Linked DNA regions of Homo sapiens. The protein of the gene in region 2 purifies or fractionates together with the protein of the main gene of each other region. This does not show direct contact. Each region holds a gene or a part of one and is shown on either strand. Other genes may lie near its edges. The genes, in order: CDK8 and MED25.

Region 1 (8,867 bases), on a different chromosome or scaffold from region 2:
AGGGATAAGGAATTATGTTTACACTTCAAGATATTTACTGTTGCTGAACATTTATTTGAAGACAGCTTTTTTGTGTGGAGGTTGAACGGATAGGAAATGTAATGAACGTGGTAATAACCTTTTTAAAAATTCTCAAGAATAGGAACTTAGGCAACATAAAAATTTATCAATGTATTTCACAGATAAAGATTGGGAAGATATAAAAAAGATGCCTGAACATTCAACATTAATGAAAGATTTCAGAAGAAATACGTAAGTTGGAAAAAAAGAGACTCCTTGTTGATTTTTGCTTTACCAGAATACTCAGTGTAAGACTGAATATTCAACATAATAAAATACTCAATATAAGATTACTCTAATAAATAATTTTACTTATTTACTCTAATAAATATTTTTCATGATGACAGTCTTTATTTCTTAAGATGCTTAAATGATTATATACAAAAGTGACTAATATTAGCAGCTGATTTGGATATAAAACAAATTCATGTCTTTCCATATTGACTACTTTTTGGAAGCTAGACATTAGTGAGAAGTATCACAGCTGAATAAATAAGAATCTAAATAAATAAACTTTGGTAATAGCCACTTGCTCACCAATCTAGGTTACAGTAATTTTAAGCAGGTTTTAACAGAGAAGAATGGATATTTCACCTGTTTACAATGCAAAGCCAGGGATTGGGAGAGTTTAGTTTGTATACCTATGACAAAAGTATTTTACACTTATTGGTAAGGCTGAATTAAACTTTTGACCCAGATGTTATTTAAAATAATTGTTAAAATATAATTCATGTGAAAAAAAAAGCTGTTTAGTGTCTGTTATTCATGAAATTGTCTTACATTTAATCATCGGTATCCTTTCAAAAGTGACCATTGTGGATATTGAATGAAATAGAAAACTGATTTAATTCTACTCATTTTATGCTCATAGTGTTTTCAATATATATTTTATATCGGTTATGATCAAAATAATTCTCATCAGAAGGACTTTAGCCAATGTACAATTAACCTCAAGTCTAATATAGCTATTTCATAGTATTTCTCTTTCAGGTATACCAACTGCAGCCTTATCAAGTATATGGAAAAACATAAAGTTAAACCAGATAGTAAAGCATTCCACTTGGTAAGCATTGGTTAACAGTATTAATGAAATGCATTTTTTCCTTAATTGACTAGCCCAACTGAGGCTTTTTTGGATCAATTTATGTGGTTACTTAGCTAGCACTCAGAGTGCTTTCATGGTAAATGCAGAGATCTTGTTAGTGCATACCAATAAAGACAATAAACTATTTGCTCTTCCAGACTCATATCATGGTTTGACAGACTAATGTTTGGTCACATTAGATTTTCTAAAGATAGCGATGGTAACAAATCTGTCAAAACATTTATAAAATTACATGTATTGTTTTTCGTCTGTTTAAGATTTTAAAAGTTCCAGAGAAGTATCAAGAAGAAAGTACTTCTCACCATTGATAAATAGATTGTTTTGTATTTCAGCTCTTTGAAAGACTGTTTACAAAGTTCTTAATTTCCAAAATACCTCTTATAACCTTAAATGTTAACAGTCATTCAGCGATTATATGTGCTATTTGATTTTTCTGGAAGAATGTGATAGATGCCATATTTATCAGTGTGTAATGGAAAAATGATTTAACCTAGAATCTAATTGAATCCGTGCACTAACAAGGTAATTTGTGATGAAATTATATACAGCCATTACCAACTTTGTTTACAATAAAATTTCCATTGTTACAGCGTAATAATTAATAATGTTTTTTGTTTTAGAAAAAGGTTTATAACACATAGAAGGGGAGTTTGGGGAAGCAGGTTGTATTTTGCTTGGCTTGAAATTCTTTTAATCCTTATTCCTAAGTTCTTAAATGAGAATTCTTTCACCTTGAAGAGGTTAACCTTTCCTTTATTGCAACCAGGCCATTTGGCAAACATTTCTTCTGTTCTTCCTTTGTTTCTCCTTTTTCTTCGCTTTCTACTGCTTCTCCTTCTGTATTTTCTACTTACTATTATATCAGTTCACATTTTATATCATGTATTTCATATCTTAACAGCAATTTAAAAAGTCATTCTTAACCTGTCATATTACCACACAATATATTATCCAGATAATGGTTTATTATAATGTACTTACAGTAGGACCCAAATTAGAGGTCTAAGTTAGATCCTTCGAAATTATGGACTTACTGATTCTAATAAAATAATGATAGTGGCAGAAGATTAGAAGTCATGACTTAGGGGAATTATTATTCTCCTTGATTCCCTGCTACTCATTATAGTCTAGGATGACTCTGCCTACCATCACCACTAAAACTCTAGAGATATACCTTCCTTGTAGCTTATGTGCTTGTTTTTACCAGGGTGACCCATCTTAATTGGAGGTAATCTTGAGTAGTCTCTTAGGAAAGCCCTATTATAATTCCATTAAAACTGTTGGGTATTTTCAATAGCAAATTCAGGCCTTTCCTTTCAACCCTAAAAATAAAATTGTGCTTTCTCTGAAATATCAGATCATTAAAATTAAATTTTAATCTCACCATTCTAGCGTTTTATTTGCATCTTAAAATATGTCGTGTCGGCCTGGCGTGGTAGCTCACGCCTGTGATCCCAGCACTTTGGGAGGCCGAGGCGGGCGGATCACAAGGTCAGGAGATTGAGACCATCCTGGCCAATGTGGTGAAACTCCTAAAAATACAAAAAGTAGCTGAGTGTGGTGGTACATGCCTGTAGTCCCAGCTACTCGGGAGGTTGAGGCAGGAGAATCGCTTGAACCCAGGAGGTGGAGGTTGCAGTGAGCCTAGATCGTGCCACTGCACTCTAGCCTGGCAACAAAGCAAGACTCTATCTCAAAAAAAAAAAAAAATGTCTTTTTATCCTGTAAAATTTGTCATCTTTCTTTAAGTCTTTTTTGTTGGAGACACAGTTTCATTGTGTCACCAGGCTAGAGTGCAGTGGTGTGATCTTGGCTCACTGCAACCTCTGCCTCCCAGGTTCAAGCCATTCTCATGCCTCAGCCTCCCGAGTACCTGGGATTACAGGCGCCTGCCACCACACCCAGCTAATTTTTGTATTATTAGTAGAGATGGGGTTTCACCATGTTGACCAGGCTGGTCTCGAACTCCTGACCTCAGGTGATCCATCCACCTTGGCCTCCCAAAGTGCTGGGATTACAGGTGTGAGCCACCACACCTGGCCTCTCTTTTAAGTCTTAATGTGTCTGTTAGTTCATTGGTTTTCAAAATGCAGTCTCAGTCCAGCAGCATGGTATCATGTAGGGCCATGTTGGAAATGCAGGCTTTTGGCTCCTACTCACATCTACCAATCAGAAACTCTGTGAGGAGGGCCCAGCAGTCTGTTTTAAGAAGTTCTCCAGGTGATTCTCATGCATCCTAAAGTCCGAAAGCCACTGCATTAGATCAGAGTATAAACTAAGAGACCACATATTAGAATCCAATTGAATGAACTATGTCTTAACTAAAAAATACTGAATCTTCACATTAGTGTGGCATTTATAGTAATAATAACAATAAGAGCAAGCACTTACATAGTACTTTCTTTATGCTAGGCACCATTATAATTGCTCTCCATATATTAACTCATTTAATCCTGAAAACAACCTGTGATAATAGTCACCATTTTTAATCTCCATTTGACAAATGAGGTAACAAAAATATTAAGGTAACTTATCCAATGTCACGCAGCTAATAAATGTTGAGTCAGGATTTGAATGGAGCAGTCGACTTTCAGAGTCTCTGCTCATCACACAGCTCTGTACTTTGTAAGTTGTGTATCACCATTTTTATTTAGACTAGAACAGCACTGCACAGTACCACTTTCTGTGATGATCTGCACAGTGCAGTAGCGTAGCCACTAGCCACATTTGGCTCTTGAAATGTGCCTGGTGTAATGGGGAGATTGACTTTTTTATTTAATTCAGTTTTGATTAACTTGGATCTAAATATGAATCACTGCATGTGTTAGTGTATTATATGTGTAACAACAGCTTTTTTATCTTAATAGAAAAAGAATAGAAAATACACAAATTTTGGTCCTGTTCTAAATTGGATAAAGCCATTTAGATAATGGGGGTGGGGATCCATTTGTTTAGTCAGAGAACATAAGCAAGAGTAAAACAAGTGAGATTATGAAACTGGAATGACTAAAGTGTGAATTACTACATTAAATTTAACAACTAGGAGTTTTGTTGTTAATTTGGGGGAATAAATATTTTCCAAATTGTGATGTTATTCACCAAAAAATATATATCGTCTTCACATATGTGCTGAAAGATAACTGTGAGAAGCAATACCGTCATGTTTGTATGATTTGTGATTTCAGCTTCAGAAGCTGCTTACCATGGACCCAATAAAGCGAATTACCTCAGAACAGGCTATGCAGGACCCCTATTTCTTAGAAGACCCACTTCCTACATCAGAGTAAGTGGCCTAGTTGGTTAACTCATCAGCATGATGGAAGTTTTGGAGTATGCTTTCTTCTGCTTGTCAGCTCTTAAGTTGCTCCTCCTCTTATATGGGAACCCAAGGAAATCCTTTATGACAAGCAAAAATGAGCTTTGCTGATTAAAGTGTCATTTAGGGGCTTTCCAGTTAAGAGGCATTCCTGTTCATCTCTTGCTTTATGAAATGCTGATCACATTAGTTTCAGTAGTGATCCAGCTATTCAGTGACAGGTTGGTTATGCGTGCTGTAGCTCCTTACTGTCTGCAGTTACAGTTTCATGTTCCAAAATTGCAAATATTCCCAAATGTGTTCCCTATACCATCTTTTGTTTTGTTAATAAATGTAGTAGGAAGGGTAAAACAAAAATTACCTTTGAATGGTGACACATACTTCAGCTAGAATCTATATTTGGTCTGTATTAATAGAAGAGTAATGCTGGGATAAAAGAAGAAAGCTGAATCATACTCGATGATTATTGATCATTTGTATACAGCTCAAGCCCTCAAGTAGCCTGCTGTAATATTACTAGTTACAAAGAAAAGATTCGTTTTGTCACAGTTACATGAAAGGTGCTTATATTTGCAAATATGGAGACAAAGTTCATCTTAAAAGATTAAAATGAGAATCTCCTAAATGAAGCATTTGGAATATTGATTAGTATACCAGAAATGGTTTTTCTTTTTCTTATGATCAGCGTTTTTGCCGGTTGTCAAATCCCTTACCCAAAACGAGAATTTTTAACGGAAGAAGAACCTGATGACAAAGGAGACAAAGTAAGTATTAAAGTACTGTTAGCAGCTTCTTGTTTCGTGAATGCCTCCATAACATTTTCCATTGTGGGTATATTTTGTTCTCCCTCTGAGCTGAACTTTTTCTGTTTAACCAATTGAGAAGAACCAGCAGCAGCAGCAGGGCAATAACCACACTAATGGAACTGGCCACCCAGGGAATCAAGACAGCAGTCACACACAGGGACCCCCGTTGAAGAAAGTGAGAGTTGTTCCTCCTACCACTACCTCAGGTGGACTTATCATGACCTCAGACTATCAGGTATTCCAAGTTTATTTTGTATTGACTGCATGTCAGTGTTTACATATGGGTTTATGATCGTGGGAAAATGTGATTTAATTGAGAAATACTGACGTCTGTATACCCAGGGAAATACATTAACATGAAATGTTACTGGCATGGAAAAGTACTGACAGTGGTATGGTAGCAAGGGTTTAGACTTTTGAACCAGACTTGGAATGATCAAATACAAATTATGCCATTTATTAACTGTGTGACCTTGGACAAGTAGGATAATATCTCCTGGCGTTTTTTCATCTGTAAAATGAAACTAGTAAAACCTAACTTGCAGCTGTTGTCAGATTAGACATGAAGTGGCTTGACACCTAGCTTATGGTAGGAGCTTGATAGCTATTGTTTTGGAACAATGTTTCACAGTGATTAAGAACATAGGCTTTCAGATCCCAGTCTGGCCACTTACTTCTCTGTATCCTTGAGTAAGTGATTCAGATGTTCTCAGTTTCCATTTGTAGACTGGATAATGATCAATGTGAAGCTGTAGTAAGGATTAAATGAGATAACTCTGGGAGGTTAAGTGTTGCAGCCATTTCAGGAAACTGAGGCTTGTAGAGGTTAAATAACTTTCACATGGATCCCCAGCAAGCTGTAGATGCAGGACTCATATTTGATCTGACCACAAAGGCTGTTATGTTGCCTGCTTAGGGATCCTATCATGGCATTGTCAGTTACGTTGTGGAAAGACCCTCTTTGAAAATTGTATACCACCTCCTTTTCTCTTCTGCTTATTCTAACCATATTCCCAACTACACAAGGGTTCAGTGTGGGAAGGATACTGAAAATCTGACCAATTAGAATTATTTACACACAAAAAAAAAGAGAGAGAGAAAGAGATGTTATTAAACTGATAAGGTCCCGAGTGCTCGTTACTGTACTTTCAGAATTAGGTATTAACTCTTTCTTTTGGTTAGGGGAGAAGTCCAGCCCATCACACCATGGAAATCACTGTTGTGTGAGTAGTAATTCTCTTCCAGTTAGCTAAACAAGGACACCAAGGGCAGACAGCTGTGGGAGTTGTTGGTTCCAGTATCTTTTTCTTCCTTTCCGGATGGGAAGAGTGCATCTCTCTTGGCCCACAAATGTGTTTGCACACTAAGGTGATGGCATCCTTAGAAGGAAGCAGAGCAGTGCTCTGACCTTCGCTTCTGGAACCGAGAAAATGATGCCATGCTGCTTTGTTGGTGTGATTGTTGTTGGTTTTTTGTGGATGAATTTTAAAATAGTATTTGTGACTATCATTTCATGTGTCCACTCTTTTTAAAAATGTTACCTTTTCTAGGATTGGCAGAATTTGGAATTATATGTCTTATTAAATATGCTTTGAAAGACAGAAGTAATAAGTTCTGGTTAATCTTTTATAGTGTTTGTCTTGGGAGCAAATAGTATGAGAGAGAGGTGTGAGAATGGGAATAATAATCTAACATATCAAAATTAGAGAACCCCAAACCATCACATTCTTTCTCTTTGTGCCATTTTAGAATTGAGAATACCGTCCTTCTTACTGTGGTTATATTTTTACTTTTGTATATAAACTTGTAGCAGAAAATAAGATTCAGTAGCTTAAAGGGGCCAGGCACTGTGGCTCATGCCCGTAATCCCAGTGGTTTAGAAGGCTGAGGGGAAGGATCACTTGAGGCCTGGAGTTTGAAATCAACCTGGGCAACATAGCAAGACTCTGTTCCTTCAAAAAAAATTTTTAAAAATTAGCTGAGCATGGAGGTGCATGCCTATAATCCTAGCAATGATTATACCATTACACTCCAGCCTGGATGATAGAGTGACACCCTGTCTCAAAAGAAAAAAAAAATAGTTTAAAGGGCATAAAAATGTATTAATGCCAAAGAAATGGATTCTGTGATACCTTCTCCTATCATACTCACTTTTACTCTTCAGTCATGTGTGTGGGGGTGAGTTTTCTACTGAAGAAAGCATGTAAATAAGCTTTGAATTTTTTATGTATACATCATTAAGTTTCTGGGTAAACATCTCAAGCAAATTTACCAAGTAGATACAAAACAGCATAAAAAGGGGTTACTCCTGTAGAAAAAAATGTATTTGCACAGCATAGTAATAAGCCTAGGCTTAATATTATTTACTAGCAATATTTCTGACCTTCCTCAAGAGAAGAGGATGTTAAAATATTTGGGGTTTTTGTCTTTAATTATAAAGTTAGTACATAGCACAAAACCTATACATCCTTTCTTCCTTGAAACATAATGACACTTCAGTCACATATTGGGATTGAGCTTCCCCTAGAAGCACCTGAATCACACTTTTCCCTCATCTCCTTTCCAGCGTTCCAATCCACATGCTGCCTATCCCAACCCTGGACCAAGCACATCACAGCCGCAGAGCAGCATGGGATACTCAGCTACCTCCCAGCAGCCTCCACAGTACTCACATCAGACACATCGGTACTGAGCTGCATCGGAATCTTGTCCATGCACTGTTGCGAATGCTGCAGGGCTGACTGTGCAGCTCTCTGCGGGAACCTGGTATGGGCCATGAGAATGTACTGTACAACCACATCTTCAAAATGTCCAGTAGCCAAGTTCCACCACTTTTCACAGATTGGGGTAGTGGCTTCCAAGTTGTACCTATTTTGGAGTTAGACTTGAAAAGAAAGTGCTAGCACAGTTTGTGTTGTGGATTTGCTACTTCCATAGTTTACTTGACATGGTTCAGACTGACCAATGCATTTTTTTCAGTGACAGTCTGTAGCAGTTGAAGCTGTGAATGTGCTAGGGGCAAGCATTTGTCTTTGTATGTGGTGAATTTTTTCAGTGTAACAACATTATCTGACCAATAGTACACACACAGACACAAAGTTTAACTGGTACTTGAAACATACAGTATATGTTAACGAAATAACCAAGACTCGAAATGAGATTATTTTGGTACACCTTTCTTTTTAGTGTCTTATCAGTGGGCTGATTCATTTTCTACATTAATCAGTGTTTTCTGACCAAGAATATTGCTTGGATTTTTTTGAAAGTACAAAAAGCCACATAGTTTTTCCAGAAAGGTTTCAAAACTCCCAAAGATTAACTTCCAACTTATAAGTTTGTTTTTATTTTCAATCTATGACTTGACTGGTATTAAAGCTGCTATTTGATAGTAATTAAATATGTTGTCATTGATATAAACCTGTTTGGTTCAGCAAACAAACTAAAATGATTGTCATAGACAGTGTTTTATTTTTCCTGTTGGTGTTGCTGATTTGTGAGCATGCTTTAAGATGAAAAAAGCATGAATGATAACTTCCTTAAAAAGGTGCGGCATCCAATTCAAATATTTTCGTCCTGATTT
Region 2 (8,867 bases):
TTGGGGGACCCAACAGAAGCACCTTCTGGCCCCATCTAGTTACAAATATGCTGTTTCCCATGAGCCTTTGGGGGCCCTTCTCCAAAACTACTTCTCTGGCCCTAAGACCACATTTCCCAGCAATCCCAGGAGCACACACAGGAGGATCATGGGAAACGCTCTTAACCCACTAGGTCCTTGGACCCATGGGCTGTACTTTCCCGGAGCCCTCAGAGCTCCGCAAAGGCCATGGGGGAACCCTCATTCTTGGATCCTATGTCTTTACTTCCCAGGAGCACTCGGTCTTGGTGCTCTAGCCCAGGAGCTGCTGGGACACTCAGTCCAGACCTCTGCCCTCCCCCGGGTCCCCTTACCTGGCAGTGGAGCCCGAGGGGGAAGTTGTGCGGGCCAGGACTGGGCAGGTGGTGGATGCAGGAGTGGGGGCCCCAACTGGGGCTGCCCCAGGCCCTGGTGCGGCGGAGGCAGCAGCGCAGGAGCCCCTGGTGGCTGGAGGTGGTGGAGGGAGGCCTGGGGTGGGGGCACCCCAGTCTGCGGCTGGGAGAACACAGAGAGTGGCTCAGAGGCTCCTGGTAGAGACTCCCCACCTCTCAACACAGACACTGCTCAGAGATGGAATCAGCTAGTGGTGAGGGGAAGTTTTTCTTCAAAGGTGGGGGATGGACGGAGAGGAGGCGGTCTGCCTTCTGCCTAAAGCCCTGGGCGGGTCCCCATTCACACCCACTGACCACAGTCAACCTCCCTCCTCCCAGACAACAGGACCAGAACCACCAGGGCCAGGATCTGGAACTCTCGCTACCCCACCCCAACATCTCACCGGTGGTGGGTTGAGGAGGAGGCTTCGCAGCTGAGGGTTGGCCCCAGGGTTCTGGGGCCGAAGGATGGGTCCAGGAGGGGGTGGGCCAGAAGCTGCTCCAGGAGGGCCTTGAGGGGCACCTGGCGGGGGCTGGGCAGTACCTTGGGGCTGGGGCTGCCCCGTGGCCCCAGAGGCCCCTACGGTACCCTGAGGCTGGGGCTGCGGTGGGCGGAGCTGGAGCTGGTGGGAAGAGACACAGGGGTGAGGGAGATGGGCAGGGCCTCACGCCCCTTCTGCAGGCACAGAGCGCAGCCTTGGGGCCTCCCCAACCCAGCCCCGACCCCGCCAGCCCTGTCCTCACCAGATTCTGTGAGGGCCTGGCTTGGTCCTCCAGAATGGGCCCCAGCCCTGGGGGTGCCTGCTGTCCCCCCATCTGCACGGGGAGAGAGGGGCAGGTCAGTAACTGAGGGTGGTGGCATCCTGAATCTGAGGCGGGAGGGCCTGTGCCCTGAGGGGAACTAGTAAGGAGATGGGGACATTCTCTTTGGGGGTGAGTGGTCTGGGAGGGATGCCGTACACTCCAAGGTCTCCAGGAGGAAGCTGTGTCAGGGCTTTGATGTGGATGCTGAAAAAGGAGAGAGACTGCAAGAAAATCTGAGTGGGACTTAGCTTGGAGGCACCACATATTGGGAGAAGGGTGGGCATCTTGGTCCTGGAGACCCCAGGGGGCCATGTGGGGCCCGGGCAGGAGGGGGTCGGAGTGCTGGTTTGGGGACTGTCAACACTCACTCCTCGCTGCTGCTGCTCCAGCTTCTGCTGCTGGACCTGCTTGTGGTTGGTGATGACCTGCCGGATGCCGTTGACGAAGCCGCTCTGGTCGTAGGGGATGAGGCCCATGAAGATCTTCTTCTTGGACGAGTACAGGAGCATGAGCACGCGCACCTCACAGGGCGCCGTGTGGGGGAAGTGCACGCAGCCCGCCTGGGTGGACAACAGCTCTTCAGAACCATTCAGGCCCTGAAAGAGGCAGCCCTGACCCCCTCCCCATTCCAGAAGGCTCTAGAGGCCCCACAGGCAAGGTGAGGTGAGGTTTCTGCTATAGAAGGTTAAGGAGAACAGGTGTGCTATGGGTTGCTCTGGAGACAGAAACTGAGGCGCTCAGGGCAAGCTAGGGTTCCAGCTGCCCACTGAGAGGGAAAGCGGAGAGAAAGTGCTGGAGCCCAGCTCTTCAACCTTCAGCCACCACCTGCTCCTCATGGACCCAGTTTCTTGGGCATAAAATGCCACGGCGGCCTCCTCAGAGGGCGGCTGAGGGTCACGGCCGGGAGAGCGGCCTAGATGCACAGCGTGGTACCCACAGGCCTGTGATCAACGGTGGGTCGGACCCCGGGTATCCAAGAGATCCTCCAGCCCTCAGCACCGGCCAGTGTACACCACGGGGAGTGCTCCCACATCACAGGGTCGCTGTGACTATGCGATGTCTGATCCACAGCAAGAGCCCTGCCTGAGGCTCAGCCCACAGGAAGCACCCAGGAAACATCACTGGTCATCAGGGGGGTAACACATGGAGCATTCAGGGCAGGGGCTCCTGAGGGAGGCGAGGCTGACCTTGGCCAAGTGAATTGACTTCTCTGAGCCTCGGTTTCCTGCCTGAGACAGACCCTGCTAGCTGCCTATTCCATATCCAAGTGTCCTCCTCCCCTGCATTCCCAATGCTGTCTGGGGCTGTAACATGTCCCAGCCCCAGACAGTCACGGATACCTGCTCCCAGCAGCCTCCCATCAACTAGGGGCTGCCCAGTGGCCTAGGTCCGGGATAGGAGGTGAAAGGAATGCCTGCTCTGGAATCTGAGAAAGTTTCTGCTGTCTTGAAGAAAGGGAAACACACAGCCCCCTTCCCCTCCTTCATGAAAGCACACAGGATGCGTGGAGCCATGAGAGCTACCTTGTGACTATAAAGGAGAGGCCAAGAGAACCACAGGGCCCTGTCCCTGATGTCACAGACCTATGAAACCAATCCCAATAGCTGGCCCCCTCTAGATGTCCTGTCCTGTGCAAAATATAAATGCCTGCTCCTACAACGCCTGCCCTCTCAGAACCCAGCTGCCACAGTGTGGCCACGTGGACAGGCCATGTGCAGACACTGGGATGGCCGGTCCTAGCCAAGCCCCAGCCAACAGCCAGGGCTGTGTGAGGAGCTGTTTTGAACATCCAGCCCAGTAAAGGTTTCAGATGACCAGAGTCTCAGCTGCCATCTGATGGCAACCCCGTGAGAGTCGCCAAGCGAGATGGCCCACTGAGCCCAGGTGACCCACAGAATCATAAGAGAACATTTTTTCCGAGTGCCCCCAATTATCTATGTGTTTGGGAAACTACGTGATTTGCAGCCGGAAGTACTAACTCTCAGGAATGCCTTCTTCACAAGGTTCTGTGAGGGTCTCGTGAGGTGATCCCCCTAAGGTTCTCTTTCCTGCAGGAGTGCCTGGTGCACGGAAGTAACTGATCTGCTCCTTCCCCGAGTTACAAAGTGTGAACTGTGACTCCCAGAAAGCTATGCTGAGGCTGGGCGCGGTGGCTCACACCGGTAATCCTAGCACTTTGGGAGGCCGAGGCAGGCAGATCACTTGAGGTCAGAAGTTCGAGACCAACCTGGCCAACATGGTGAAACCCTGTCTCTACTAAAAAATACAGAAATTAGCTGGGCATAGTGGCACATGCCTGTAATCCCAGCTACTTGGGAGGCTGAGGCAGGAGAATCGCTTGAACCCAGGAGACGGAAGTTGCTGTGAGCCAAGATTGCACCACTGCACTCCAGCCTGGCTGACAACAGTGAAACTCTGTCTCAAAAAACAAAACCAGAAAGCTAAGCTGAGGTTCCAGTCCCCAGCACCTGTGAAGGTGACTCTATCTGGAAAGAGGGTCTTTGCAATTGTAGTAAGATGAGGTCAGGAAAATGGGGCCTAATCCAAAATTACTGATGTCCTTATAAGCACAGACACAAAGATACAGAGAGAATGCCATGTGGAGACACACACAGAGGGAAGACAGCTGCGGGATGGAGGAAGACCCTGGAGCGATGCCACCTGAAGCCTGGGGTTACCGGCCGGAAGAGGCAACGAAGAGGCCTTCCCTCCAGCCTCTAGAGAGAGCGTGGCCCTGCTGACACCCTGACCTTGGGCTTCTGGCCTCCAGAACTGGGATAGAACACGTTTCTGTTGTTTTAAGCCCCTCTGCTTGTGGTAATGTGTTACCACAGCCACAGGAAATGAACACATCCCATAAAGCCATGCCAGAATCAACAGCTTCCTCCTAACTGATCCTGTCACATCCAGCTCACATTTTTAATGTGGAATATCCCTCAAATCTGGTGCATACGATGATTATAATAAAAGTCACGGCTCTAGAAGAAAGGCGAGGAACCTAAGGGCATGAAGTGCACCCAACCATCAAAAACGGCTTCCGTGGGCCCAGGCACTCTGGGATTCCCGTCAAAGGTCAGCAGAAAGCAGGACAAGAGTCAACACCCCTCGGCCCCCCATGCCCTGGACTCACGAAGCCGTTGCCCATGATGCGGTAGAGGCCTTTGAGAGACTCCAGGTCCTTGTTGGTGAAATGGAACTGGACCATCCTTGAGTTCCGGAACAAAGGGCCCAGGGTGGTCTGCGGGAGACACAGAAGTCGGCTGGCATGCTGGTGTGGGCAAGTGAGGCGGGGACATGAGGCAGGGAGTGGGGGTGGGGCAGGGAACAGGAAAGAGACAGCAGGGTGAGGACTGCCCGGCAGCAGGGCTGGCCCTCCACCGCCACTCACCAGCAGCTGCTGGGGGATGAGCTGCATGATCAGCTTCTGGGGCCACTGCTCCGTCTTCCTGGGGGCGATGCCAGGAGAGGTGTGAGGAGGGGGCCAGCCCCAGCCCCACCACACCCCGCCCCTGACTGTCACCTACAGGTTCTCGCCATGATTCACGTAGACCTGGCAGGGCAGTGACCGCGTCAGCTTGGTGTTGGCATCCACTGAGGCAGGTTTGGGTTTCTGAGGGGGAAAAAAGAGCATGTCAGTAAAAAGGGCCATAAGCCTCAGTCCCCTTGAGCCCTCATGTCCTACCCTGGTAGCCCCAAAGCTCAGGATGTTCCCCAGTTTAAGTCCCATGAGCCCCAGGCCCCTCCTCCAGACCAGCAAGCCTTCAGTTCCTCAAATGTTACAGCTACGTGCCCGGCCCCTAAATCCCACCATCCACTGTGCCCCAGATGATACATCGCCTGGGCTCTTCTCTGGGCCCCAAATCCTGGGCTTTTCTGGGTTCTTTGCATGGGGACTCTCCTCTGTACCGCAAGTCCCACCACTCCATGGGGCTCCTGGCCTCGCCCCGCATCCCACAGGTCCAGCGCAACGAATGCCTCCAAACCCAGCACTGCAGACCCCACGCATCTGGCCCCATGAGTCCTACATGCCCAGCCCCACGGCCCCAGGAGTCCCAAGTGCCCAATGGACCCTCAGGCCCCTCACCTCTTGCCACTCCAGGACCCCGCTCCAGGCCAGAAGCTTATTGGAGACTGACTGCTGCCCACCGAGGGCTGGGGCTCCCAGCTGGGCTGGGGAAGGGCCGCTCACCCCTCCTGGGGCCACAGTGCCTGCCTGCCAGAGGGGAGGAAGGAGGGCCATGAGAATGGGGAAGGCCGGGAGCCTCCGGGGGCCATCCTGTGAGGGCAAACCAGGAAGGAGGAAAGATCCCTTCTTCTGCCCCTCCATCCCCAGAACAGCACTTGGCCAGCCGCAGGACCCCAAATGCTTGGACCTTGCAGGATTCGAGGACTCGTAAGCTGTGCGATGCCCTGGACTCCCAGACCCAGGGATTCCTTGGGTTTCTCGGAACAGCCCTGACCCTCCTGGAGCCATGAGCCTCCCCACTCTGTCCCCAGACCCTCATCTCAGGCATCTGCAGCACACACACCACGAGCCCCCAAAGCCCCAGAACCACGAGAGCCACATCCCCCTGGAAGGCAAATGACTCATCCTCTAACTGTCCTAGCTGTGGACAGCAGGAGGAAGGAGCAGGGGCAGGAGGCGTGCAGGCACCTACCATGGACGGTGCCCCGGGCTGTGCCGTGGGAGCCAGGCCGGAGCCAGGGGCCACAGTGGAGACCAGACTGGGCTGGGAAGCAGGTGGTGGCTTGGGGGCGCCAGGGGGTCCTGGGGGTAGTTGGGGAGCTGGGGCCTGGCTGAAGGGGGGACCCACTCCGGGAGCAGCTTGTTGGAGAGGGGTGATGGGCGAGACTGTGGGAGAGACCAAGGGAAGAAGTGGGGAACAAGTGTGTGGAGAGAGGCCTGCCTGGCCCCTGCCCGCCCTTCATCCTCACTCCAGGACTCACAGCGAGGGCCCAGCCCAGCCTTCTGGTTCTTGGCAGCCTCCACTGCATTCTGCGCGGCCACCTGAGCTGCACTCAGGTTCCCGGGAACCTGTGGGTAGAAGGGAAGAAGGGAAGGGACTGGTGAGGACCATGGCCCCCCAGTCCTGGTATCCCACGAGGTCACACCACCCATGGCCCCATGAGGCACCAGCTGGGATAGCTTAGCTCACAACACCCATCACACAGCACATGAGCTTCCATGGCCCCAAGAGTCCCACCTTCCCAATGTCCCATGGGACTCCCATCATCCCACAAGCTCCAACATGCAACTAGATTTCTCCCCAGGGGCCAGGGCTCCAGCAAGTCCCCAGAAGCATGTCCCTTCCCGGAAATATCCATACCTGGTACTGCGGGGGGACGGGGGGCAGAGGCTGCTGGGGGGCTGCTGAGAGAGTGGCACCTGAGGGTGCGGCGGGAGGCAGGGGGACTGGCTGCTTTGACTGGAGGGGGCCTGGGGCTGAGCCACCCCCAACTGAGAGCAGGAGGGATGGCCAACCCCAGAGAGAAGGGATTCAAGATGCAGAGAAAGGAGAGAAATCCAAAATCCAAGTCAGAGGGAGCTGGGGAAACACGTCGAGCCCCCATCCCCGCGCACGGTGCCCAGGCCTCACCAGGCAGCACGAGTCCCCGAACCAGCACCATGTGCCTCGGGTCCTGGCTCACATCTGTCGGAGGCTGCAGCGGCTCCAGCAAGGCCGGGGGGGCTGCCTTCTCAAACAGAAGCCGAAGCGCAGGCAGCTTCCGGGGAGACACAATGGAGAAGTGGATCCCCCGCTGTAGGAGAGGGGCCGAGCAGTCATGACGGGCCCCCTCCATAAGGGTGTTGGGGCCGGCCCCCAACCTACCACAACTGCTGTGTGGCTGGACGGCACCAGCCCTACAACCACAATTCCCATTGGGCTTTGAGGCAGGAGACCCTGAAACCAGGTATCACCTGCCCCGGGAGACTCTGGGTTCTAGTTTTGTCAGTAAGACTAAGTGGGCCAGGTGTGGAGGCTCACGTCTGTAATCCCAGGATTTTGTGAGACCGAGTCAGGCAGATCACATGAGGCCAGGAGTTTGAGAGCAGTCTGGCCAACATGGTGAAACCTCATCTCTACTAAAGATACAAAAATCAGCTGGGCGTGGTGGCGGGCGTCTATAATCCCAGCTACTCGGGAGGCTGAAACATGAGAATTGCTTGAACCCTGGAGGCAGAGGCTGCAGTGGGCCAAGATCACACCACTGCACTCCAGCCTGGGTAACAGAGCCAGACTGTTTCGAAAAGAGAGTAAGCAAAGCTGGTCACCAGTCTGTGACTATTCTGTGTCTGAGTCCAGGCCCCCAGTGCCTCCCCGCTTAGACCCAAGAGTCCAGGCCCCCAGTGCCTCCTCCCTCAGACCCAGGAGTCCAGGCCCTCAGTGCCTCCTGCCTCAGACCCAAGACTCCGGGCCCCCAGACCCTCGTCCCTCAGACCCTGGAGTCCTCACCTCCCCAATCTGCTGCACAAGATTCTCAGTTGTGCATCCAGAGTACGTGGTGCTCTCAACAGCAGGCAACAAGTATGGGGGTGAGTTGCAGATGAGGAGGCAGACCCGGTGCGTCTGGCCACTACCAGGAAAGAGAGAAGACATGGAGCCAGCAGCAACAGAGGCCCTGAGAAGGAACCCAGACCCAGCACCAGCGGAGATGCACATATTCCGCCTCACATGGAATCAGAAGCAACGCCCCTACTTTACAGCTGAGAACACTGAGGCTCCAAGAGGTTCTGGGATGTGCTCTACGTCACCCAGCAGGCAGGGCAGGCAGGAGTGACACCCAGAGTTGGCACTGCTTCCTGATGGGGATGCTGAGACCGGGCACTGGCCAGGCGTCCCCCAAGGACACACCTGCAGCCTCCTGGCTCAGCGTGCTTGGGGACACAGAGCCCATGCCCTACAGGGTGAGGCTGGAGGTAGAACCACTCGACAGGCAAAGTGGTTCCAGGCCAGGCAGAGAGAGACCGGCCCGGCCTGGGTGGAGGGGGCACTCACATCTGCTCGCGCATCTTCTTGAAGTCATCAAACAGCTGCAAGGCTGTGCTGAGTCCTTCCGCGATGAGGCTGCAGCTCTCACCACCCCCGCCCATGAACCTGCAGGGGCAGAGCGGTCAGCCCCCAGGGTTGCCATCATCCCCATCCCCAGGCTATGCTTGAAGAGCCTGCTCCCATGCTGTCCCCCACTCTATCCTGGGCTATGCACCTTGGGATGACGGGGACCCTGCTGAGTTCCCTACCCAATCCCTGGTGCTAGCACAGCACCAGTCCCAGACAGGACAGGGGACATTTGCTGTCTGTGTTTTTTTTTTTTTTTGAGATGGAGTCTCGCTCTGTCGCCCAGGCTGGAATGCAGTGGCATGATCTCAGTTCACTGCAAGCTCCGCTTCCTGGGTTCATGCCATTCTCCTGCCTCAGTCTCCCGAGTAGCTGGGACTACAGGTGCCTGCCACCACACCTGGCTAATTTTTTGTATTTTTAGTAGAGACGGGATTTCACCATGTTAGCCAGGATGGTCTCCATCTCCTGACCTCATGATCCACTTGCCTCAGCCTCCCAAAGTGCTGGGATTGCAGGAGTGAGCCACCACACCCGGCCGACATTTGTTGTCTTTAATCATGAGGACTGGGAGGGAATGGGAAAGGGCTGGGGA

What was found.
Region 1: the proteins of MED25 (region 2) and CDK8 purify together in Homo sapiens (affinity purification with mass spectrometry; 9 studies listed by BioGRID and IntAct, with this or other methods). This does not show direct contact.

What each region holds. Positions count from the first base shown.
Region 1 is NC_000013.11:26,396,103-26,404,969, forward strand, and holds part of CDK8 (cyclin-dependent kinase 8), read left to right. Parts: intron 1-182; coding exon 183-252; intron 253-1,050; coding exon 1,051-1,123; intron 1,124-4,350; coding exon 4,351-4,448; intron 4,449-5,166; coding exon 5,167-5,245; intron 5,246-5,363; coding exon 5,364-5,522; intron 5,523-7,853; coding exon 7,854-7,979; 3' UTR 7,980-8,867.
Region 2 is NC_000019.10:49,827,893-49,836,759, reverse strand, and holds part of MED25 (mediator of RNA polymerase II transcription subunit 25), read right to left. Parts: intron 8,312-8,867; coding exon 8,213-8,311; intron 7,791-8,212; coding exon 7,670-7,790; intron 6,975-7,669; coding exon 6,812-6,974; intron 6,673-6,811; coding exon 6,542-6,672; intron 6,250-6,541; coding exon 6,162-6,249; intron 6,067-6,161; coding exon 5,873-6,066; intron 5,428-5,872; coding exon 5,299-5,427; intron 4,825-5,298; coding exon 4,739-4,824; exon of another isoform or gene 4,661-4,738; coding exon 4,603-4,660; intron 4,453-4,602; coding exon 4,345-4,452; intron 1,775-4,344; coding exon 1,583-1,774; intron 1,227-1,582; coding exon 1,155-1,226; intron 1,034-1,154; coding exon 815-1,033; intron 535-814; coding exon 354-534; intron 1-353. UniProt on the Homo sapiens protein: Component of the Mediator complex, a coactivator involved in the regulated transcription of nearly all RNA polymerase II-dependent genes.